Linked DNA regions of Homo sapiens. The protein of the gene in region 2 purifies or fractionates together with the protein of the main gene of each other region. This does not show direct contact. Each region holds a gene or a part of one and is shown on either strand. Other genes may lie near its edges.

Region 1 (3,500 bases), on a different chromosome or scaffold from region 2:
TCATTAGGTTCATGGCCCTCGAGTGAAGAATGCCTGCCTTAAGATGACAGAAGCAGAGGGTTCCCTTCATGGCCAGGTTAAAGATCGTTACCACACAAATATCTGACCAAATCAGCTTTATATTATACCCTGTCTACCACCACACTAGCATCTAGTACTCAAAAATGCATGCTGAACACGTAACAATAAAGCAAAGTCAGCTTTTTTTCTGTCCTTCTTTTTGTTACTGGTATTAAGAAAAACATCATATACCTTAAGATTTTTGCAGCTCTTCATCAGGTATTTCACATCATAAATGGATGGGAAGAAAAGGTTCAGAATATGAAAGAATTCATGTTCCTCTTCTGGCAAACGAGAATCTGTAAGCAACTTTACCATATAGCCAAAATCATAGCCACTACAAGAGAATAAACCACAGAGGTTAAAAAAGCAGTGGTTATCAGGCCCCAGTGTTCAACCATTTTATTTCTCAAAGCTTGTAAATGCTACTTCATGTTAGGAACTTTCACTTTTTCTGAGTAGTTTATCGTACTATAATCTGAATCTTTTTTTTTTTTTTTTTTTTTTGAGACAGAGTCTTACTCTGTTGCCCAGGCTGGAGTGCAATGGCACGATCTCGGCTCACTGCAACCTTCACCTCCCAGGTTCAAGCAATTATCCCTGCCTCAGCCTCCCAAGTAGCTGGGATTACAGGCACCCGTCACCATGCCTGGCTAATTTTTGTATTTTTAGTAAAGACAGGGTTTTGCCATGGTGGCCAGGCTGGTCTCGAACTCCTGACCTCAGGTGATCCACCTTTCTCAGCCTCCCAAAGTGCTGGGATTATAGATGTGAGCCACTGCGCCCGGCCTATAATCTGAACTTTCTAATAACAACCTAACAGACTAATATGGGAGATATAAAAAAGTACCCAAGGGGTTTAATTGTAGATTCGATTCACCAAAAATCCAAAAGTACTGAGAAGTTAAAATAAGGAGAATCTGGCTTTCAAGTACCTAAGAAACTCCGAGACAGCCATTTAAAAGATAACCAAGTACTGTGACCCTCTACACCCACCATATTCCCACTTGGAATTAAACCCACTGATAGCCACATGATAGAGCCAAATACTGTGTGAAACAAACCAGTATATGAGCCCCAGTGTTTTGTGAAAAACTGAAACATGGGCAACAAGCACCAATTCAACTTCTGGCTGCTGCTGCTGAACAGAACAGTCACTAGGACTGCAAAAATGACTAAGAATTCAATTCCCTGCTTCAGTGTAGCCCAAAGTGAGAGAGAAATACACATTCCCTAGGACTGACCTATGAAATGAAAGCCATTTGACATTGTCACAGAGAACCACTCCTGATGTCATAAGCAGCTCTGCAAAGTGCAGTGTGTCAATCCCTTCCTCTTCATGCTTCTGAAACTGTAGTCCTGAGTTAGCAAGGAGATCTATGGAATCCTGGGAGTACATGTCCTCTCTAAAAAACAAGGTGTTTATTTATTAACTGGTGAATAATGAAACAGAAGTAGTGGCCACACTATTACCACCACCTTATAATTATAGTACAAGTATTTTTGAAATGCTTTTCCTAACTTAATAGATCAATTCACTCTTTCCAACATTCAAACAAGCATGCAAAGTAGATCATATTTCTGTGACAGATAGAAAAATGAGATTTTCCTCCATAAACTAAATTTCCTAATTATAATAGGTATACATTTGCTCATTATTTAAAAAAAAAAAAAAACCAATAACACCAGGCACAGTGGTGCACGCCTGTAATCCCAGCACTCTGGAAGGCCAAGGCAGGAAGATCACTTCAGACCAGGAGTTCCAGACCAGCCTGGGTGACAGAGTGAGACTCCGTCTCAAAAAAAACAAAACAAACAAAAAAAAAACAACACACACACACACACACAAACAAAGATTAGCCAGGCATGGTGGTATGCACCTGTAGTTCTAACTACTCCGGAGGCTGAGGTGAGAGGATTGTTTGAGGCCAAGAACTGGAGGGGACTCACACCACTGCACTCTAGTCTAGGTGACAGAGCAAGATCCTGTCTCAAAAATAAAATAAGTAGGCCGGGCATGGTGGCTCACACCTGTAATACCAGCACTTTGGGAGGCTGAGACAGGCAGATCACTTGAGGCCCAGAGTTCAAACCAGCCTGGCCAACATGGTGAAACCCTGTCTCTACCAAAAATACAAAAATTAGGCCAGGCGTGGTGGCTCATGCCTGTAATCCCAGAAATTTGGGAGGCCAAGGTGGGCGGATCACGAGGTCAAGAGATCAAGACCATCCTGGCCAACGTGGTGAAACCCTCTCTCTACTAAAAACACAAAAATTAGCTGGGCGTGGTGGCGCACGCCTGTAATCCCAGCTACTTGGGAGCCTGAGGCAGCAGACTCACTTGAATCTGGGAGGCAGAGGTTGTAGTGAGCCAAGCTCGCGCCACTGCGCTCCAGCCTGATGACAGAGCGAGACTCCCTCTCAAAAAAAAAAAAAAAAACACAAAAAAACAAAAATTAGCCGGACGTGGTGGCATGCCCCTGAATCCCAGCTACTCAGGAAGTTGAGGCATGAGAATCACTTGAACCCAGGAGGCAAAGGCTGCAGTGAGCCAAGATGGCGCCACTGTACTCCAGCCTAGGAGACAGAACAAGACTCTGTCTCAAAAAAATAAATAAACTTAAAAAAAAAAAAAAAAAAACCAACAAGGCCGGGTGGGGTGGCTCACGCCTGTAATCCCAGCACTTTGGGAGGCTGAGGTGGGTGGATCACCTGAGGTCGGGAGTTCGAGACCAGCCTGACCAACATGGAGAAACCCCATCTCTACTAAAAATACAAAATTAGCAGGGCGTGGTGGCACATGCCTGTAATCCCAGCTACTCAGGATGCTGAGGTTGGAGAATCGCTTGAACCTGGGAGGCAGAGGTTGCAGTGAGCTGAGAAAGCGCCATCACACTCCAGCCTGGGCAACAGGAGCGAAACTCTATCTCAAAAAAAAAAAATAAACCAACAAAAAAATATTGAGGCACAGATGGTGGGCAGCCAGCTAAGATGACCTGACGCGCCTTCCAGCTGATTCAGGCTGCTTGCCTCAGACTCAGACACCGCCACCATGGCCAGTGAGTCTCAGGGGATCCAGCAGCTGCTGCAGGCTGAGAAATGTGCCACTGAGAAGGTATCCAAGGCCCATGAGCAAAAGACCCAGAGGCTGAAGTAGATCAAAGGAGCAGCTAAGGATGAAACTTAACAGTACCACCTGCAGAGGGAGGAAGTGGTCCAGGCCAAGGAAGCCACAGCCCTGGAATCCCAGTAGCTGCAGCACTCAAGTGGCGTAGGAAGCCCAGAAGAGGACCAGCCTCCAGACCTACTTCTGGCAGAACAAGGCTTGGATAGCCTCTTGGCCACCGTCTGTGACACTGAGCAGAAATCCATGAAAACTACAGCATAAATGGAAAGGAGTGGGAGAAAGAAGTGCCTGTTCCATGAACTGGCGTTTTAGA
Region 2 (3,256 bases):
CTTCCTGCCTCAGCCTCCTCACTAGCTAGGATTACAGGCACATGCCACCATGCCCAGCTGATTTTGTATTATATGTAGAAACAGGGTCTCACTATGTTACCCAGGCTGGTCTCAAACTTCTGGCTTCAAGTGATTCTCTAGCCTCAGCCTCCCAAAATATTAGGATTACAGGCGTGAGCCAGCATGCCTAGCCCAAGAGGGGGCATTCTAAGTGAGATTGTTCTGTGCCAAGTTCCTCTGCCACTTTTAACATCAATTCCCAGTTCCCAGAGTGATTATGAAACCCGACTCTGCCATTTCCTTGTTGTGTGACCTTGGATACATTCCTTAACCTCTCCAAGCTTCATATCTTTCTCTGTAAAATGAAAATACTAGGCCGGGTGCGGTGGCTCACGCCTGTAATCCCAGCGCTTTGGGAGGCAGAGACAGGTGGATCACCTGAGGTCAGGAGTTCGAGACCAGCCTGGCCAATATGGTGAAACCCTGTCTCTGCTAAAAATACAAAAAAAAAAAAAAAAAAAATTAGCCAGGCTTAGTGGTGGGCGCCTGTAATCCCAGCTACTCAGGAGGCTGAGGCAGGAGAATCACTTGAACCCAGGAGGCAGAGGTTGCAGTGAGCTGAGATCGTGCCATTGCACTCCAGCCTGGGCGACATAGCAAGACTCCGTCTCAAGTAAATAAATAAATAAAATAAATCAGGTCATGTTGTTATTATTATTTTTGTCTTTTTATTTTTTGTAGAGACAAGGTCTCGCTATTTTGCCCACGCTGGCCTAGAGGTCCTGGGCTCAAGCGATCCTCTTTCCTCAGCCTCCCAAAGTGCCAGGATTACAGGTGTGAGGCACTGCGCCCAGCCTGGCTGCTATGATGATTAGGAATAACTCTGAAGTCTATGAAGGGTGCAGCCCCTCCAGCCTAGGGGTGGGGGATATTTGCAGACATGGACTTTCTTTGAACAGATAGGGAAACTGAGGCACAGAGAATGGAAGTGTCTTCCCAGAGGTCACAGAGCACCTTGGCAGCAGAGCTGGGACCAGAGATCAGGGGAATGACCTCCTTCCACATCTCTGTGAAGAACTAAAGTCAGATGGGGGTTATGGGCAGGGAGTGAGCCCTTTAAATCCTAAGCTCCACCTTTACTTAGAAGAGTCTCTGGGCGTTATAAAAGGGGATGCAGCTCCCTTCTGCTCTGGGAAACGCCTGCTGCTCTTGCCCTTGCCCACGGGCCCCCAGCCCCAGCCCCTCTCCTGTGGCCCACCACCCCTGCTTTGGTGCCATGCAGCTGCCACCCTTCGACATGTGGAAGGACTACTTCAACCTGAGCCAGGTGGTGTGGGCGCTGATCGCAAGTCGGGGTCAAAGGCTGGAGACCCAAGAGATTGAGGAGCCAAGTCCCGGGCCTCCGCTGGGGCAGGATCAGGGGCTGGGGGCGCCAGGGGCCAACGGGGGCCTGGGGACCCTGTGCAACTTCTGCAAGCACAACGGGGAGTCCCGCCACGTCTACTCCTCACACCAGCTGAAGACACCGGATGGCGTGGTGGTGTGTCCCATCCTGAGGCACTACGTGTGTCCCGTGTGCGGGGCCACCGGTGACCAGGCCCATACGCTCAAGTACTGCCCGCTTAACGGTGGCCAGCAGTCCCTCTACCGCCGCAGCGGGCGCAACTCGGCCGGACGCAGGGTCAAGCGCTGAGCATCGTGAGATGCTCACCACCCGCACCCCTGACCCTCCTGGTCCATCCCACCCAAGTCCCTAAACTCTCTCTTCCAGTCACCCAGCCCTTTGGAATTTCTGGCCCCCAGAACTCCACCCTGGCTGGATCCTGAAACAGTGGAGGCTGCTGGGAGCCAGGCCAGCCCCGCCCCCTTGGACCTGTCAGCCCTCGGAGCTCTGGCCTGTGGGCGTTGGCCTGAGGGTCCTTGGTGCCGCGGGAACCCTTCCTGCACGGCCCTGTAGCGCCCTCTGGGCCCCGGTTCATGGATCTTTTGTCCTCGTGGGGCCTGCTGGTGACTGGAGCCCTGCCCCTTCGACTTCTCTGTTCCTTGTGGAGTTCTTGGATTTTTGAACCTCCAGGATTCCACGGTGCTGTCCCAAGCCAGCCCTTAGGAGATACTGAACAAGGCTGGCTGAGAAGTGCCTACTCAAGAACTTCAAGATGGGATGTCGACTTAAGACCAGCCTTCTCCATCTTCAGCCTCCTGCAGAACCACGGTGTCATCGTGGACCACGCCTGTTCATTCCTTCCCTGACCTCAGTACCCATCCGTCAGGAGCGGAGTAGGACTCTGGAGAGCACCGTATCACTGGAGGGCACCGTGTCTTCGCAGGCTCACCTGTGGATGGAGAGCCGTGGGGTGAGCTGACACCTTTCAATGCCCCCTGGTTGTTCTTCCCCTTGTTCAGCCCATTGCACCCGGTACCTGCCCCCATCCCCAAATCACCGATGGGTCCTTTCCCCCAGCGAGAAGCATATCTCTCGACCACCTCCCGTCCGACCCCCCAAATCGTGATAGTTGACTAAAGGACATTTTTTTTTCCTCCTGTGTTTTTCAACCTCCAACGTTCAAGTCAAGGAACCGCCGATAAGAAGGGGGTTTGAGTACCCGGATGGGAATGGCAATGGCCTAGCTTTTATTTTAGGGGCAAAGAGAAGAAGGGCCCCCGTCAGATTTTAAGTTGTTCAGTTTTTGGCACAGGGTCGGGACCCTGAGTATTGAGCTCTGGTGAATAAAAAGGTTTTCTAGTCGTCTTTGAAATGGCTGTATCTGTTTCCGTCTTTGGTTTGTTTGTGAGACAAGGTCTTGCTCTGTCGCCCAGGCTGGAGTGCAGTGGTGCGATCTTGGCTCACTGCCCGGATTCAAGTGATTATCCTCCCTCAGCCTCTTGAATAGCTGGGACTACAGGTGCGCCCCACCACGCCTGGCTAATTTTTTTTTTTTTTTTTGAGACGGAGTTTTGCTGTTGTCGCCCAGGCTGGAGTGCAATGACGCGATCTCGGCCCACTGCAACCTCTGCCTCTCGGGTTCAAGCGATTCTCCTGCCTCTCAGCCTCCGGAGTAGCTGGGATTATAGACATGCACCACCACGCCTGGCCATTTTTGTATTTTTAGTAGAGACGGGGTGACCGAGTAGGCGGGACTACAGGTGCACGCCACCACACCCAGGTAATTTTTATTTTTGGTTTTTGTTTTTTCTTTTTTGAGATGGAGTTTCGTTCTTGCTGCCCAGGCTGGAGTGCCAATGGTGCGGTCTCGGC
Region 3 (3,500 bases), on a different chromosome or scaffold from region 2:
CATGCCACTGCACTCCAATCTGAGCAACAGAGCAAGACCCTGTCTCTACAAAATAAATAAACTTTTATCAGTTTCAGCAGCACCAAAAGGCTCTATTTCCCTATGATTACAAGTAAACAGGCTATTTGTAACATTTTCAAAACTATAGTTTTTTTAAACAAATGAGTGATTTAATAGTAGTGACTAACAGATTGAGACACGCTTTTTTTTTTTTTTTTTTCTTGAGACAGAGTCTCGCTGTGTCACCTAGGCTGGAGTTCAATGGCACAGTCTTGGCTCACTGCAACCACCACCTCCCAGGTTCCAGTGATTCTAGTGCCTCAGCCTCCAGAGCAGCTGGGATTACAGACATTCACCACCATGCCCGGCTAATTTTTGTATTTTTAGTAGAGACAGGGTTTCACCATGTTGACCAGCCTGGTCTTAAACTCCTGGCCTCATGTGATCCGCCTGCCTCAGCCTCCCAAAGTGCTGGCATTACAGTTGTGAGCCACCATGACCAGCTGAGACATACTTTTTTTTTTTAAAAAGAATCATTTAAAAGCATCTCTAAAAATCTCTTCTTAGATGAGCTTCACTTCCAATGCAAATATTAATTTTTAAGTTAGAATAGCAAATTCTGGACCTAGATGGCTCTGTCACACACTAGCTGTGTGACTTTGAATAAGTTATTTCACCCCTTTTTGTCCCAAATACCTACCTAATTTGGAGACTCTTGAATTGTTGATTAAATGAGTGAATGTATATAAAGTGTTAAGAGTAATGCCTGGATGTTGTTCCCTGCAAAAAGAAAAAAGAATAGTGCCTAGCCTACAGTGAGTATACCATAAGTGCAAATAATAAAATGCCTAATAGTTGGAGGGTAGAAAATAGGGAAAAAAATTCAGTTTTGAGAAATTTTCAGATTGAATATGCTGAGACAACTATTCATTAGTAACCAAAACCAGGAAACAAGAACACTGAAAACCCATGATACTTGGCTCAATTTTATAACAGAATAAATATACAAGTAGGAAAAAAAAAAGGCAGGAAAGAAACTACCTGGAACAGTTAATACTGAATTGGGCACCAAAGCAAACCAAACACTCCACTTTACTTAGCATCTCAAACGAGAGTAAATAAACCATAAAGTTATTCTATGTTGCCCAACAGAGAAATTGCAAGAAAATGATACAGATGAGAACCACTGAACAAACCAGAAAATAAAAATCCCCAAATACACAGAATCACCTAACAAATTTAGTCTTCTCAGTCTTCTCTATCTCCAAATCAAATCTCAATCTAAGCCTCTATATCCAACTACCAATTTACAAGGAATCAAGAAAATCTAGAATGTGGGAAACTGCAGGACAAATGACCTGGTTTCTTCAACAAAGTACAAGGAAAAAAACTGAGGAGAAATATGCAAATTAAGGCATTTAAAATGGCAGCCAATTGCAGTTTGTGGGACCTAGATCCTGATTCAAATAAATTACAAAGGTCAACAGAAAAGTAGTACCTAAGAAAGAAAAACACCCCTCCGTGTGCAACTCATCTGTGCAGATTTCACTGAATTTCACTGGATTGGTGTGTTAAAGGATGTTCATTAAAGACAACTTCTCTAATAATCATGAAGTTCTTACCGTCAGACATTATTTTAAGAATTATACAAATATTATTTATTACAACAACCCTAGGAGAAGGTACTATTATTGTTCCTATTTAACAGATGAAGAAACAGGCAAACAGTCTCATTTAAATAATTCACTCAAAGTCACAAAGCTGTAAGCAGCAAAGCTGAGATTCGAACCCAAATGGTCTGGCTACAAAGCCAACCACTGATTACCATACTATGCCATTTCTCTGTGTGCTATGGTGGAAACTATGCTTTGGAATCACAGAAAGCGGCCCAAATCTCCATCTCTATGTTACCGAAATTACTTAACTTCTTGGAACCTCTGTATATCTCTTGTAGAAGGGTTAATATCTACTTCTTTAAATAGTAAGGAATAATAAGATTACATAATTGACTCTATTACAGCATCTGAGTTTATGAAGCCCACAATAAATGGTTCCTATTGCCCTTCCTGCCATACATGGTAAGACGAATTAAAAAGTAGAAAAATTTACTAACAGCACAAAAACTGGAAAAGCTCTACTTTCAAATTAACTAAACAGCCCCAAAACCAACTTTTCTATATACTTATAAACTTTAAAGATAGCAATAATTCAGACAATAACTTTTTTATATACCAAACTTTTAAACTTAAGCAGAAACAGAGTTTGCAAGCTCAATTTAAAGTATAGCTAAACTTAACCAAATGAGATTTTTCTGGGGGAAAAAACTTACTCCACACAAATAGACCTACTGCTCAGAAAAGGGTACTAAAACTTTGTTCATTCTGGTGATTCTCTAGGCTGACCTCTGGTTAACAAAAGGCAAAGTGGTTTTTATCTTAGAAAAGGAAGGTGAACTTAATGACTTTGTTAAAATCAACTCCTTTAAGAGTAATTGCTTTTTATGTTATCCTCCAACTATTAAGTATTATCTGTTAAACCGTAAAGTTCTTTGTTTTATGGTCATCTAGATACTCCCAATCCCTAGTTTCTTAACAAAAATAAATGATTGAGCTGTTTTAGCTGAAAAATGATTCAGCTAACAGATCAATTATTTGCCTTAGTAAAGAAAAATAATAGGCTCTTTTAAATGTTTGCCTAGCACGTTTGAAATCACCTATAAAAATTCAATTTACATAACATTAGAAATATATCTACCTCAGTTAAAGTATACCTGTGGACAAAAGTTCAGTTCCTCTTACTGAACTATTTTCCAAGTTTGATTATAGGCTGTTTGAGGCAGATTTCAGTGGGAAATAGGAAACACTAAGTCTGATTTAGAAGTAACTTGGGCAATTAGGTCTCTAACAGCACAACCACGTATTAAATTCCAGACAACAGCAACTACAGCCACTTAGGGGGTATGTTATTTTTCCCCTCATCTATCTGAACAACCATAAATACACCAAAATTTGCCTTTCCCATTAGTTTTTTTTTTTTTAGTTGGAATCCTTTAAAATTTTGTCTGCCTTTCATCTTTTAGACCAACAGTCTTACTTTCATGTTTAAAGGCAGTGACCATAACAGTCAAGTTAAACACAACAACTTAGATTGCCTAAATTTGAATATAGGCCTTTTTTTTTTTTTTTTTTTTTTTTTTTTGAGAGGGAGTCTCGCTCTGTCCCCAGGTTGGAGCGCAGATCTCGGCTCACTGGAAGCTCTGCCTTCCGGATTCATGCCATTCTCCAGCCTCAGCCTCCCGAGTAGCTGGCACTACAGGCGCCTACCACCACGCCCAGCTAATTTTTTGTATTTTTAGTAGAGACGGGGTTTCACAGTGTTAGCCAAGATGGTCTCCATCTCCTGACCTCGTGATCCGCCCGCCTCGGCCTCCCAAAGTGCTGGGATTACAGGCGTGAGCCACCGCGCCCGGCCTGAATATAGACTGTTACCTACCAGCTGGA
Region 4 (3,500 bases), on a different chromosome or scaffold from region 2:
GAACTGATTTTAGTGCTAAAACTGGACAGAGACCGTATGGAATAAAGTAACTTACTTTCAGTGTTTAATTTTAGCTTTCTAAAATTAATCTTCACAAAAACAGCTAATAAATTCAAAAAGTCTAAGTTTAATTTTGTTGAAGTAGTATAAAAAGATCAAAAAAGAATATATCACTTCAAATTGGATCATCAACCCCTGAATACTTAATAATTGTTACTTTAAATTTATTTTAAAAACTGAATTTCTTTAAAACATAAAGAATGGCACTGGAAAGGTATATATAAAGATTTGTTTTTTGGAAACTAAATATACTAAGTCATTAACTTTGAGTTGCTTGAGTCAAACTAACACAACTGAATAGGGTCAAGGGGAAAAAAATCTAATCTCTCACTAGTATAATTAGAAACAATCACAGAAAAATCATCTCTAAAATATTATGCCAAGAATAGGACATACAGCTGAAAAAAAGAAAAAAAAAGAAAAATGGGAAGAACTCAAGGAGTTTTTCTTGGCATAAAAAAACTAAAACAGGCAAAAATATAAATATGTATAAATGAGCTTGTATATGAGCAGGTGACTGGAAGGACAGTAAAATTAAAATTTATTGGGCACTTATCAACAAAGCACTATACTACTTCCTCTCAATTCCTTCTTATAATCATCTTATAAAAAAGGTTATCACCTTTTTACAAAGAATAAAAACAAATTTTAAAAAAAGTTTAAAAGGTTATAATTTTGAGTCAAATTTTTCTTTCAATCTAACAATTGATAATAACAACACAATATTAGGAGGACTATACGAACACATTCTAAATAGATTCCTACCTCTTATCTGGCAGGGTGTTAGTCAAATTCCTTATTGATCATTTTTCAGAAACCCTTAAAGAATATGATCTAAGAAATTATTCCATTAATTATTTCCACTGCACAAACTGATTAACAGCACATCACTTAAACACTTATGGCAAAATACGTCATTCTTTATTCAATTTTTTGCTAGAAATAAAAAATATTAAGTTACATGAAAAAATAAAATCATAGCAACCAAATCCCTGAATATTCATACTTAAATAAAGTCCCCTAAAATCTTTATAGGGGCAGGAGAGAGTAGTCCTTAACTGATGCCTTAAAGTGTCCCCTTTTCCATTTGCAAAGCAGCCAGCTTCCTCTAGGAACTCACTGGCATGCCCATACTAAAAAGGACAACATAAATGGTGCTTTATCTCAATGGCTTCTTACCTTCAACCTGTCTTGCACTTAGCTGGTTAATGATTCCTGTAAAATTATTTCCTTATGCAATTTTCTTCATTAAATTCAAAGTATTTTAGAATAGAAAAGACTCCAGAGATTATCCAAGTAGGTTACAGATAAAGAATTCACACTAGGCATTAAGTGACTTGCTCAAGATCACAAGTAATGAGGCATTAAAGACAATGATCCAATTTCTTGACTCCTATTTCAATGCCTTTTTTGCAACCAATATCATTTTCCATTTTTTAATGGTAGTTAATAATGTTTGCATCATCCAGGGAACTTTAATGTCTAGGTCTCCTCTCCAGCAATTGTGATTTTGGGCAATCATGGCAGTGGAATTTTAAAAATTCCCCAGGTGTTTCCATGGGTGCAGTCAGGGTTGAGAACCACTGTTCTAGAGTATTAAAATTCTGTCAAGACCCAAAGATGTTTTCTAACCTTAACAAGCATTTTACTCTGTTTACACACTACATATCTGATTTATAATCTTCTTTCTTCTTTCTCTATTCCTTTCCTCAAATCTGTCCTTTACTACTCATATCTAACTCCTCAGCAAGAATACTTTCCCTTCTCTTGTTCTAGAGATATAAAAGACTACTTAAAAATAAATAAGTGCTATGACCAAGGTGTTTACATGCAGTAGACATAGCGTGCTTGACTGCTTGTAGGAGGGACCACACTAACTCAGACTTGGGAATAGAGTGAGTCTGGAAGCAGAAAAATTTTCCTGGAGGAGACAGAAGATAGTATATGAATTAAATAACATATGAGACTCAGCCAGGTGTTTGGTGGTGGCAGTGGTGGGGAGTCAGGTGGGTATAAATGTTACAATAGTTCAGTCTGAGAGAATGACGAGATATATGAAAATGAGGACAAGTTATACACCTGGCGGAGGAACAGGCTTTGCCTTCTAGGTGCTAAGAATGTATAAGACAAGAAACATGGATGGAGCTAAGTGGCTTCCACAACTATGAGAAGTGGCTGCTGTGCTCGAATCAGCTGAGAGTCTCAACATCTGGCTGGATCTTTAGAGGAGTGCCACAGAATCTTTACCTGTGGAATAGCTGTGTGGATCTCCCAAGTACACTCTACACTTCCTCAACCTAAATTTCTGCTCTAGATTAGTGGCACTCATTCACAAAGGTTTGCAGGTCGGAAACCTTAGAAATCATTCTTGATCCCTTTCTTTCACTCCTACATCATCAAGTCCTGTTAGCTCTATCTACAAAATGTACCAAATCTGATCACTTCTCAACACCTCCACTAGTCCAAGTCATCCCATTTTTTTTTGCCTGGACTACTGCAGTATTACTAACATTCTCTCTCTCTCTCTCCATAAAAACAGGACATTTGTTATTTGCTATATTCTTATCTATATCTTGAAATAATACCTCATTCATTGTAGGCACCCAATAAATACATAATTATTAGAATGAATACATTCTATCACAATGTCTTAATTCAACAGATTCTTGGCACCTGTGGATTTAACACTGGTAGTTTCTACTATGTACAAATGGCTTTCTAGGGTCATGGCATTCAGGTATCAAAGAAACTGATGTTTTCAGCTCATGTTCACATAGTTACTCTTACAAAGTAATATAATCCTGGTTCTACTACTTACAATCTGTGTAACCTTGAACAAATTCCTTAAACTCTTGTGGAGCTGCTGTGAAGGTTAAATGAGTTAATTCACATAAATACTTAAAATCGCATCTGATACACAGTAGATAATATTCAATAAATATTAGCTCTGTGTGTGTGTGTGTGCGTGTGTCATACTTATGAAAAGAAAGCCAACAGGTGGTACCAAAAGTGAAGATAAAATAAGATAGTCTAATCAAGTGATGGTTTTCACACACACAAAAAGGATGTTTTATGGTGGAAAATGTTATTCTATAGCTGTGTTCTTGAACTTTAAAAGTAGCAATGATCTTGAAATAAATCTCTCAGAAATGTGAAGACTGTACTTCTTGCTGAAATCAATATAACAGCCTAACAGGTGTCTCCTGTCTTGATAAAGTAGGCCATTCCTAAATCTATCCCATGCTGTGGATGTTATTCCCACTGCTAAAACAACTTTACTCACAGTCTGTTCAATGCTAATCTCAAATATAATCTCATCAGTAAATTCTTTTCCTAATCATTTTCCAAGATACCTGATTACTCCTGTCTTTGAAATATCCAAATAGTCTACAGCCGTACCATCCTGAATGTGCCCTATCTCATCTGAAACATCCAAATAA
Region 5 (3,111 bases), on a different chromosome or scaffold from region 2:
ATGGATGTGCTGGAGGGGCTCAACCTGCTCATCACCATCTCAGGTACAGGTGTGGTGAGTGGGGGAGGGAGGAGGGGCTCAGCTCCTTGGCGCTGTCACCATCTTCTGCCTGGGAGGAGGGCAGGCACTGGAAGGTGGGGCCACACTTTCTCACCCCTTGTGGTATGCTGACAGAGGAGGCCAGGGCGGTGGCATTCGGGCCTCAGATGAGAATGGGGGCGGGTGTGTATGTCTGTCCGTCCCTCAGGGAAAAGGAACAAACTGCGGGTGTATTACCTGTCCTGGCTCCGGAACAAGATTCTGCACAATGACCCAGAAGTGGAGAAGAAGCAGGGCTGGACCACCGTGGGGGACATGGAGGGCTGCGGGCACTACCGTGTTGGTGAGGATGTCCCAACAGAGTGGCCAGCGCATACTTGTTCATGAAGAGAGAAATGGATCTGGGAGCCAGGGACTTGGGGCCTGGGTGGGGCAGTGTAGTGACAGACCACGGGGAGGCGCCCGTGGCGCAAGAAGGGAAGTCTCAGCATCCCTCTTCTCTCCCGCCCCCAGTGAAATACGAGCGGATTAAGTTCCTGGTCATCGCCCTCAAGAGCTCCGTGGAGGTGTATGCCTGGGCCCCCAAACCCTACCACAAATTCATGGCCTTCAAGGTAATCCCAGCCTCGGTCCCTAACACCATCTGGAGTCCCAGCGCCTCTCCCCGTGCCCCTGAGCCCTCCTCTCCTCCGGTTCTCTGCAGTCCTTTGCCGACCTCCCCCACCGCCCTCTGCTGGTCGACCTGACAGTAGAGGAGGGGCAGCGGCTCAAGGTCATCTATGGCTCCAGTGCTGGCTTCCATGCTGTGGATGTCGACTCGGGGAACAGCTATGACATCTACATCCCTGTGCACGTGAGCTTGGCGGGGCTGCTGGGGGAGTGGGATGGCCCAGTCTGGGCACCAGACACGGAGACTCTAGTCCCCCTCCTTCTCCCCAGATCCAGAGCCAGATCACGCCCCATGCCATCATCTTCCTCCCCAACACCGACGGCATGGAGATGCTGCTGTGCTACGAGGACGAGGGTGTCTACGTCAACACGTACGGGCGCATCATTAAGGATGTGGTGCTGCAGTGGGGGGAGATGCCTACTTCTGTGGGTGAGTGAGCTGCCGCCCTCCCAGCCACATGCCCCGAGGTGGCCCCGGGGTGCAGCCTGCTCAGCCCCTCACCTGTTCCCCACAGCCTACATCTGCTCCAACCAGATAATGGGCTGGGGTGAGAAAGCCATTGAGATCCGCTCTGTGGAGACGGGCCACCTCGACGGGGTCTTCATGCACAAACGAGCTCAGAGGCTCAAGTTCCTGTGTGAGCGGAATGACAAGGTGGGAGGCTCCTTCCCTCTGAAAGCCCTGCTGTCCCGGCTGCCATGACCCTAGGCCCCTGGGCAGAGTTCTGGGGAGAGGATGGTGGTGGTGGCTTCCTGAAAGCGGGCCCCTCTGGGAGCTCAGAGGGCAGTCAGCCACTACCACTGCCCTGCGCTCCCTTCAGATTCCGAGGACTTCCCAGCTGGCCCCCAGGGGGCGAGTGGTGCACCCTCTCCCCTAACATCCCAGCCTGCCTTTCCTCCGGGTGAGGGGCACTGTGAGTCTCCTCCTGCAGTCTCTGTGTCTCCCTCAACTCTTCTGCCACCCCTTCTTCCCTTCTTTCCCTCTCCCAGTTGAGACACCCCCCCAACCTCAGCCCTTGGTGACTTCTTCTCCTGCCCCACCCAGGTGTTTTTTGCCTCAGTCCGCTCTGGGGGCAGCAGCCAAGTTTACTTCATGACTCTGAACCGTAACTGCATCATGAACTGGTGACGGGGCCCTGGGCTGGGGCTGTCCCACACTGGACCCAGCTCTCCCCCTGCAGCCAGGCTTCCCGGGCCGCCCCTCTTTCCCCTCCCTGGGCTTTTGCTTTTACTGGTTTGATTTCACTGGAGCCTGCTGGGAACGTGACCTCTGACCCCTGATGCTTTCGTGATCACGTGACCATCCTCTTCCCCAACATGTCCTCTTCCCAAAACTGTGCCTGTCCCCAGCTTCTGGGGAGGGACACAGCTTCCCCTTCCCAGGAATTGAGTGGGCCTAGCCCCTCCCCCCTTTTCTCCATTTGAGAGGAGAGTGCTTGGGGCTTGAACCCCTTACCCCACTGCTGCTGACTGGGCAGGGCCCTGGACCCCTTTATTTGCACGTCAGGGGAGCCGGCTCCCCCCTTGAATGTACCAGACCCTGGGGGGGGTCACTGGGCCCTAGATTTTTGGGGGGTCACCAGCCACTCCAGGGGCAGGGACCATTTCTTCATTTTCTGAAAGCACTTTAATGATTCCCCTTCCCCCAAACTCCAGGGAATGGAGGGGGGACCCCGCCAGCCAAAACATTCCCCCCATTCCCGACCCCCCTCTCCTCTTCTAGCCCATGCCCTTCCCCGGTGGAGGGAGGGAGCAGGGAGCCCTCACTCTCCACGCCCCTTGCTTGCATCTGTATATAGTGTGAGCAGCAAGTAACCCTTCTCCCTCCCCCCCCACCCCTCCTCAATGTAGTGGCCTTGGATATCCTGTTTGTTAATAAAGACAATTCAACCAGCTCCCACCATGCAGGCCGCATGTCCTTGCTTTCTGTCAGTACTGTAGACTAGGCAGAGAGAGCCTCCAGGGTGGGGAAGAAAGGGGCAGGGTGGGCTGGGATCTGCAATGAGTGAGCCTCATGGGGTGGGATGGGCAGTGCTGGGCCAAGAAAACCTAGAAGAAATGACTGTGGAAGGGTCAGGGCAGCCTCAGCCTTAAACCTGTGGGCCTGAGGGCCACCAGCACTGAAGGTGTTTGGTTCCCACCCGCTCCAGCAGAGCCAGACCAGGGAAGAAGAGGGTTTCCTGGCTACAGCCTCCCTGTGTGCAAGTCCTGCAAAGGGGTCTCCTGTTTGGCTATGAAATGAATATAGATAGATAGCTCACAAGCTGGCAGCCACCAGAGTCCCGTGGGGCTGAGCCTTAGAAAGGCTGGGAGGTCAGCAAGGCTGAATGAAGGGCAGTCCTTGCTTTCTGGAAGACTGGCACCTGAGAGCCTATGTGAACCCTTTCCTCCTGCTGACCCCTG
Region 6 (4,299 bases), on a different chromosome or scaffold from region 2:
TCAACTAGGGCACAAAAAGATTAGTTTTTTCCTTGCAAAGTGATGTGGATGGTCTGCTGCTGCAGGTGCTATTTTCAATATTGTCTCACTTCTTAAAATGAGTTATCCATTGTAAACTGCTGATTTCTTTGGGTCATTGTCCCCACAAACTTTTTATAAGCCATCAATGATTTCACCATTCTTCCACCCAAGTTTCACCATAAATTTGATTTTTGTTCTTGCTTCAATTTTAGAAGAATTCATGTTGATCTTATAGGGGCTCTTTTCAAACTGATGTCTTACCTTTCTTAGTGCCTCAAACTAGATCCTGTTCAAACACCTTATAACAAGTTAGTAGGAGTTTATTTTGGTGCAAAATAATTCAAAATCCATGCATAGTTTTTTTCATAATATGCATTTTCCATGAACTTTTTGATGACCTCTTGTATGAAAGGGGATTTATTAGGGGAATGAACTCATGCAATTTTGGAGGCTGAGAAATCCCATGACAGACCACCTGCAAGCTGGAGACCCTGGGATGCAGGTAACATGCTCAGTTCAAGTCCTAAAGCCTCAGAACTAGGAAGCCACTGGTGTAATTCTCACTTTGGGATAGAAAGCCTGAGAACCCAGGGAGATGCTGATATTAAGTCCTGGAGTCCAAAGTCTGGAGTTATAATGTCCAAAGGCAGGAGAGAATGCCCCAGCTCCAGGAGAGACAGAAAATCACCTTTTCTCTGTCTTTTCCATGCCATCCATGCCCCCGGCCAGTTGGATGGATCCCACCTACGTTGAGGGTAGATGTTCCCCACTAGTACACTGACTTACACACCAATCTTCTTTGGAAACACCCTCATAGACTTACCCCAAACTAATGTATTACCAGTTCTTTAAGTATTCCTTAAACCAGTCAAATTGACACTTAAAATTTACTATCACGCTACCTATACTAGAGATAGTGATCTAGAGTCCATTGAGGTGGCTAGAGTGCTCAGGAGCTGGCTTTGCTACAGTAATACTCCCTTCTTCCATGGAGAAGCAGCATGCACAGTGGCTCTGAGAAGCTGGAGGAGGGTCACTGGAGTGAGTGGGCTTCTGGTCTGAAATTGACCAAGAATATAGTTCCTGTGGACCAGGAGTGATTAGAAGCTACAGAGGTCTTAAGAGACCTATCCCTCCTCAGTCTACCTTGCACTTACTGAGGGCTCCCACTCTTAGGAATAATTCCATCGTTTCATTTTGTGGCATCAGAGATGAGTCATTGACCCGGAAGAAGTCCCGTAATGTTTCTCAACTCAGTATCTGTGACTATATTTCCTGCTCTTAAAAGTTTAGCATGCCCTCATGTTTCAGGTTGCTTGGAGAAGTCTTAACCATGCTGTTCACATAAAGAGTCACTAAATCCTCTGGCATCAGGAACTAGAAAATATCCTGAGTGTTGGGCAGTGCCAGACTTAGTGAGGCAGAACTTCCTTCCTTGCCCATGTGGATAAAAGGCCTGGGCCCTGTTACAGCCTGTCAGAAAACCCAAGTGCAGTAGAAGCCATTGTTCATAATGGTAGGGATACAGGGTCCTTCGTAACAGATTATCAGTGTGGCCTATGCTGGAAAGTCTGGTGACCTCTGATTTTTTTTGCTTCCAGGTCTTTGGCCTTGGCACTCTTTGTCATATTAGAGTTCCTGGGTCTAGGCCTGGGCAGGATTCATAGGTGCAGCTGCTTCTGCTGGAGGTAGACTGCATCCAACAAAGTAAGGGTGCTGGGTGAGTTCTGGGAGTATAGATTCTGACTGGGGTCACTGCTGGGCTGGCCGCCAGTCTTTCATCTGACCCAGGGTTAAACTGTGGCTTGGGACTGACTCAGGTCCTCTCTTGGGGTCGGTCTGCACATAAAAGGACTCCTATCCTTGGCAGTTCTGAAACAACACCACCACAATGGAAAAAGGTAAAGATCCTCGTGGAAGGGCGAAAAATTGACAAGGGGGTGATATTCTGTGCTCTCATTCTTACTAATTTACATTTTGACTTTCTCAACAGCATTGAAAATTGACACACCTCAGCAGGGGAGCATTCAGGATATCAATCATCGGGTGTGGGTTCTTCAGGACCAGACGCTCATAGCAGTCCCGAGGAAGGACCGTATGTCTCCAGGTGAGTAGCCACGGTCTGTGAAAGGCAGCTCCTTTGGCCAGTGCTGTTGTGTGTTTGGTGCTCAGATGTTATTCCACAGTGGGCTTGTTAACCGGGCATATCTACAGAGAGGAGCATCTCACAGACAATAATGAATAGAGGGTGAGCATAAGGTTGTTCTGGGACTATGGTCATGAAGTCAGAGAAGAGAGAGAAGGCTTAAGGGAGACTGAAGGGTCAGCCTATGAAAAACAGTGGAAGACGTATTCTGAGAAACTTCAAGGAGTAAGAGTAGGACAAAAGAGGGTAATCTATGGGAGGACCAGTTTTTGAATCCATGAAAGACTGACTTTTCTAATGGAAAGTGTTCCCCAAACATAGGATGGGTGTCCCGGTTAGGTGGTGGGTGGTGAGGTGACCATTCTATGAGTGCACTGTGAGTGTCAGTTAGCAGATTCCCTTAAAACTCTGGCTCAGAGGTACCACCCTGGAAATGGCAGCTGAACACCACTTTTCACATCGTGTTCCCAGTCACTATTGCCTTAATCTCATGCCGACATGTGGAGACCCTTGAGAAAGACAGAGGGAACCCCATCTACCTGGGCCTGAATGGACTCAATCTCTGCCTGATGTGTGCTAAAGTCGGGGACCAGCCCACACTGCAGCTGAAGGTGAGTGTGGAAGACAGGTCCTGCCATTTATTTGATGGAAACTCAGATTTCAGGATCTTTTAAAAGACAATGTACTTATTATGCTCATGCATTTTTATTTTTGGTTTCCTTGGGGTTGGTATATGTTATGAAAGACTAAGAAAAATTGCAGGGACATTTTGAAACAAACCTACTAAAATGACTTATTATTTTAATTTACAAAAATATTAATAATTTGGCAAGGATGATGTCTAACTTCAATAGAACACACACACAGAGTAAAATCAGCAAGGACATTTTAGCAGTTAATTATCACAAAGTAGACGAACTTATTAAAACATCTTTTTGGCAAAAAATACATTGCAACTTTAAATGAACAAACATAATTCTCTGTAATAAACACTTCAATAATCGCAATTTTCCATTATTAAAAAAAGATAATTATAGCAGGCCTCTGTGTACTACAGGAACTCTCTTGACCCTTTTCAGTAAACAAGCATAAGCAGACACTCAACTTGATGACAAGATATAAAACAGTGTTTTTCAGCCAGGGGTGATATTGCTCCAGGGACATTTGTCAATGTCTGGAGATGTTTTGGTTGTGACAACCTGGGATGGGGGTGTGATACTTGCATTTATCGGGTAGATGACAGGGATGCTACTAAACATCCTATATTATTATACAGGACAGACCCTGAAAACAAAGAATCATCTTGCCTAAAATGTCAATAGTGCTGAAGGTGCAGAAACCTGACAGAAAATAACTGTTTTAATTTGAAATTTACAGTAACTGTTACATAAATATTCTTTAAGTTTCTGTTTCTGAACAACAAATAATGGCCCAATCAATGCTTTGTATTCTCAAAAACTTTCATGTCAACACATTTTTCAGAGCCTCACATTAAAAACCATTAAAATTTGTAGCCTGAGTTTCAACCATAATCTTAAAAGAATTTAATTTATATGATTTTCAATCCCATAATATGAAACAGAGGTCTCCAAGCTGCTTCAATGAGTAGGGAATGCTATCCTTGGACGTGGAATATCAGTGTGTAAAGAATGTGAAACATTCAAACAGTTATGTTTCTTGCTGGTGTCTCCTTCGCACCCTTCAGGAAAAGGATATAATGGATTTGTACAACCAACCCGAGCCTGTGAAGTCCTTTCTCTTCTACCACAGCCAGAGTGGCAGGAACTCCACCTTCGAGTCTGTGGCTTTCCCTGGCTGGTTCATCGCTGTCAGCTCTGAAGGAGGCTGTCCTCTCATCCTTACCCAAGAACTGGGGAAAGCCAACACTACTGACTTTGGGTTAACTATGCTGTTTTAAGGTCAGTTGGGTTTGGAGGATAGTCTCCATGCAGGGAAAATCTTAGTATAATCTTAGCCTGGAATGGGCAGGGAGAATTTGTTATTGGACTTTCCACCTAAGAGTATCTTGCTGCCTCCCAATATATTCATGCAGTGACCTAAGTGCTGGACTGGTCCCTCTCCCTGGGGCCATGTGGAAAATAGTCCAGGGAAATTGAGGGCCTTGCCATGAG
Region 7 (3,500 bases), on a different chromosome or scaffold from region 2:
TTAAATTATTTATTTATTTAGAGACAGGATCTCTGTCTGTCACCCAGGCTGGAGTAGAGAGGCATGGCTCACTGCCGCCTCGACCTCCTAGGTTCAGTTGATCCTCCCACCTCAGCTTCACAAGTAGCTGGGACCACATGCCTGCTCCACCACACTCAGCTAATTATTTTTATTTTTTGTAAAGACAAGGTCTCCCTATGTTGCCTGGGCTACTCTTGAACTCCTGGGCTCAAAGGATCTTCCTGCCTTCTGCCGTAGTACTAGGAGTACAAGCATGAGCCACTGTGCCTGACCAATTTATTGTTTTTAAAGAGACAAGGTTTCACTATGTTGCCCAGGCTGGAATGCAGTGGCTATTCACAGCCATGATAATGGCACACTATAGCCTTGAACTCCGGGGCTCAAGCAGTCTTCCCACTTCCCTCTCTGGAGTAGGTAGCTTTGATACTGGCACACATCCCTATACCTGGCTATTTTTAAGCTTTTTATTTTAAATATTCAATATATGGATGACTGTCAAAGGCATTGTTGAGCAAAAGAAGCCAGACACATGGGAATTCATACTGTATGTTGATTATGTGAAGTTTAAGAACAAGCAAAGCCAATTACTGGCAATAAGTTGGATTCGTGGTTAGCTCTGAGGAAAGAACATTGACTGGGGAAAGGTACAAGGGAATGCTGGAATCCTGAGTTGGTAGAAATATTGCTTTTTTCTGTTTTTTTTTTTGTTGTTGTTGTTTTTTGTTTTTGAGACAGTCTCACTCTGTCACCCAGGCTGGAGTGAAGTGGAGTGATCTCGGCTCATTGCAACCTCTGCCTCCTGGGTTCAAGCAATTCTCATGCCTCAGCCTCCTGAGTAGTTGGAACTACAGGCACACACCATCATACCCAGCTAATTTTTTGTATTTTTAGTAGAGATGGAGTTTCGCCATGTAGCCCATGCTAGTCTTGAACTCCTAAGCTCAGGCAATCTGCCTGCCTCCACCTCCCAAATATTCTGTATTTTATACAATATTTTGTATTTTAATCTGGTTATAGTACATAATGTGTACATAGGTAAAAATTCAAGGTACACTTAAGATTAGTGCACTTAACACACTTCACTGTGTGTAAGTTTATATTAGGTTCCTATATAACCTGCTGCTATAACAAATTACCACAAGCTAGAAGGGTAGTGGCTTAAAACAATGGAAGTTTACTGTTTTATAGTTTTGGAAGTCACAAGTTCTAAATGAGTTTCACCAATCTAAAGTCAATGTATCAGGAGGGTCATGCTTTCTCTGGAGGATATAGAGGAGAGTCTTTTTGTTGCCTTTTCTAGCTTCTAGAACTGCATTTCTTGCATTCCCTGGATTATGGCCCCCTCCCTCTTCAGATCCAGCGATGTGGCATGTTCAAATCTCTTTCTGCTTGTCACATTGCTTTCTCCTTTGTGGTAAAATCTCTCCCTACATCTCTCTTGTTGTTGTTGTTGTTGTTGTTGTTTTGTTTGTTTGTTTGTTTTAAGAGATGGGGTTTTCTCTGTCGCCCAGGCTGGAGTGCAGTGGCATGATCATAACTCACTGCATCCTTGAACTCCTGGCCTCAAGCAGTCCTCCCACCTTGGCCTCCCAGAGTGCTGAGATTACCAGCATGGGTCACTTTGCCTGGCCTTCTCTACATCGCTTTTAAGGACACTTCGTTATTACATTTAAGGCCTACTTGGATAAACAGGGATAATCCCCCATCTCAAGATCCTTAACTTAATCACGTCTGCAAAGTCCCATTTTTCATTTAAGGTAACATTTGCAGAGTTTGGTGATTAGGGCCTGGATATCTTTGAGAGCCATTATTCAGCCTACTACAGTGTTATAACCCCAATAAAATAGTAAAATAATTCCACAGTTCATTTTGATGAGCAGCCAAGAAAGAGTATCATTATCGTGATTGTCTAATTTAAATTAAACTAATATTTTAATATCTCTTTTATGTAAGAGCTAATGAGCTCAAGTTGAGGGAAAAATTGAGGCCACATATAAGCTTCACAGCCAGGATATGTTTTATTACTGTTAGATAATCTTCAAAGAGAAGCGTGAAAATCTTATTTCTTCAAGATCTTTTAAGAACAAAAAAGGCCTTATCTCAGCCGAGTGCAGTGGCTCACGCTTGTAATCCCAGCACTTTGGTAGGCCAAGGCAGGTGGATCACGAGGTCAGGGAATTCAAGCCCAGCCTAGCCAAGACGGTGAAACCCCGTCTCTACTAAAAATACCAAAATTAGCCAGGCATGGTGGCAGGAGCCTGTAATCCTAGCTACTCGGGAGGCTGAGGCAGGAGAATCAGTTGAACCAGGGTGGCAGAGGTTGCAGTGAGCTGAAATGGAGCCACTGCACTCCAGTCTGGGCGACAGAGTGAGACTCCATCTAAAAAAAAAAAAAGAAAAGAAAAAAGAAAGAAAGGCCTTACTTCATCTGGAAGAGAGGAGGCATAGCTGAATAAATCATCTTGGCCTATGGAAAAGAGAAGAGCCTTAGATATTCAAATGAGGCTTGGATCTCAGCTGTGCCATAGTAACTTTGTCACTTGGGACCTTAACCTGGTGCATTATTGATTAACAGTTATACCGGGCACATAGTAGGTACTCTGTAAATGAGAAGGTCTCTGAGTTTTTAAGAATTTGATAATTACACGGAACCTACCCTTGTATGTAAAGTGAGAATAATAATGGTACCTACCTCATTGATTTATTATAAAAATAAGATAAGCATGTAAAGCCTCTAGAAAAAAAAACTGGTACAAAGTAATGTTCAACATGGTAATATTTATTATTCTTTGTACTATACATATATGATAAAGTTGTACATAATATACAAGGATCCCTGCTTGCTCAATTTTCTGACTGATAGTCATGCCTGGGAAAATGAGTAGAAAATGAGAAGATTAAATCTGAGCAACTTTATAAACTCTTCGATTTTGTTTTGCTTCAGGTTGCCACATTCATCCTCCAGAAGATCTTGTTAGATGACACTGGTTTGGCTTATATATGTCAGACGTATGAGCGTTTCTCCCATGTTGCCATGATCTTGGTGAGTTCTTTCATCTATCCCCTTTACAACTACTTCTCATCACAAAGCTTAATCTCTTTATAACTGGCATTGAACAACTTCAGTCCTCTGACTAGAACTAACAATTTTGGAACCTTTTATGATTCTTGGACTATCTGATCTCTGATGTCAATTAGAATTTGTTTGTGTTTTGTGTGTTTTTTCCAACCCCTCCCCTTATTTTGGGGGAAACAGGGTAAGATGGTCCTGCAGCTATCCAAAGAGCCTTCTGCCCGTCTGCTGAAGCATGTAGTGAGATGTTACCTTCGACTTTCAGATAACCCCAGGTAAACATTTATAGGATGTATAGGACTTTAGGGAAATACTCTGCTGAACAGTTTCCTAATCTCATGGCATAGCTCCTGTGTCTTTAGGACAGGGAAGTGGGGATATAACTGCATTTAGTTTGTCTGAGACA

What was found.
Region 1: the proteins of NANOS2 (region 2) and CNOT8 purify together in Homo sapiens (affinity purification with mass spectrometry; 2 studies listed by BioGRID and IntAct, with this or other methods). This does not show direct contact.
Region 3: the proteins of NANOS2 (region 2) and GPBP1L1 purify together in Homo sapiens (affinity purification with mass spectrometry; 2 studies listed by BioGRID and IntAct, with this or other methods). This does not show direct contact.
Region 4: the proteins of NANOS2 (region 2) and CNOT2 purify together in Homo sapiens (affinity purification with mass spectrometry; 2 studies listed by BioGRID and IntAct, with this or other methods). This does not show direct contact.
Region 5: the proteins of NANOS2 (region 2) and MINK1 purify together in Homo sapiens (affinity purification with mass spectrometry; 2 studies listed by BioGRID and IntAct, with this or other methods). This does not show direct contact.
Region 6: the proteins of NANOS2 (region 2) and IL36A purify together in Homo sapiens (affinity purification with mass spectrometry; 2 studies listed by BioGRID and IntAct, with this or other methods). This does not show direct contact.
Region 7: the proteins of NANOS2 (region 2) and CNOT9 purify together in Homo sapiens (affinity purification with mass spectrometry; 2 studies listed by BioGRID and IntAct, with this or other methods). This does not show direct contact.

What each region holds. Positions count from the first base shown.
Region 1 is NC_000005.10:154,868,627-154,872,126, reverse strand, and holds part of CNOT8 (CCR4-NOT transcription complex subunit 8), read right to left. Parts: intron 1,467-3,500; coding exon 1,305-1,466; intron 398-1,304; coding exon 253-397; intron 1-252. UniProt on the Homo sapiens protein: Has 3'-5' poly(A) exoribonuclease activity for synthetic poly(A) RNA substrate. Its function seems to be partially redundant with that of CNOT7.
Region 2 is NC_000019.10:45,912,714-45,915,969, reverse strand, and holds NANOS2 (nanos homolog 2), read left to right. Parts: upstream 1-1,191; 5' UTR 1,192-1,276; coding exon 1,277-1,693; 3' UTR 1,694-2,756; downstream 2,757-3,256. UniProt on the Homo sapiens protein: Plays a key role in the sexual differentiation of germ cells by promoting the male fate but suppressing the female fate. Represses the female fate pathways by suppressing meiosis, which in turn results in the promotion of the male fate.
Region 3 is NC_000001.11:45,680,034-45,683,533, forward strand, and holds part of GPBP1L1 (vasculin-like protein 1), read right to left. Parts: intron 1-3,500. UniProt on the Homo sapiens protein: Possible transcription factor.
Region 4 is NC_000012.12:70,323,433-70,326,932, reverse strand, and holds part of CNOT2 (CCR4-NOT transcription complex subunit 2), read right to left. Parts: intron 1-3,500. UniProt on the Homo sapiens protein: Component of the CCR4-NOT complex which is one of the major cellular mRNA deadenylases and is linked to various cellular processes including bulk mRNA degradation, miRNA-mediated repression, translational repression during translational initiation and general transcription regulation.
Region 5 is NC_000017.11:4,895,451-4,898,561, forward strand, and holds the end of MINK1 (misshapen-like kinase 1), read left to right. Parts: coding exon 1-43; exon of another isoform or gene 44-44; intron 45-247; coding exon 248-382; intron 383-552; coding exon 553-653; intron 654-742; coding exon 743-892; intron 893-978; coding exon 979-1,138; intron 1,139-1,223; coding exon 1,224-1,363; intron 1,364-1,753; coding exon 1,754-1,837; 3' UTR 1,838-2,611; downstream 2,612-3,111. UniProt on the Homo sapiens protein: Serine/threonine kinase which acts as a negative regulator of Ras-related Rap2-mediated signal transduction to control neuronal structure and AMPA receptor trafficking.
Region 6 is NC_000002.12:113,003,960-113,008,258, forward strand, and holds IL36A (interleukin-36 alpha), read left to right. Parts: upstream 1-1,499; 5' UTR 1,500-1,912; coding exon 1,913-1,922; intron 1,923-2,014; coding exon 2,015-2,128; intron 2,129-2,638; coding exon 2,639-2,778; intron 2,779-3,872; coding exon 3,873-4,085; downstream 4,086-4,299. UniProt on the Homo sapiens protein: Cytokine that binds to and signals through the IL1RL2/IL-36R receptor which in turn activates NF-kappa-B and MAPK signaling pathways in target cells linked to a pro-inflammatory response.
Region 7 is NC_000002.12:218,589,339-218,592,838, forward strand, and holds part of CNOT9 (CCR4-NOT transcription complex subunit 9), read left to right. Parts: intron 1-2,965; coding exon 2,966-3,064; intron 3,065-3,277; coding exon 3,278-3,369; intron 3,370-3,500. UniProt on the Homo sapiens protein: Component of the CCR4-NOT complex which is one of the major cellular mRNA deadenylases and is linked to various cellular processes including bulk mRNA degradation, miRNA-mediated repression, translational repression during translational initiation and general transcription regulation.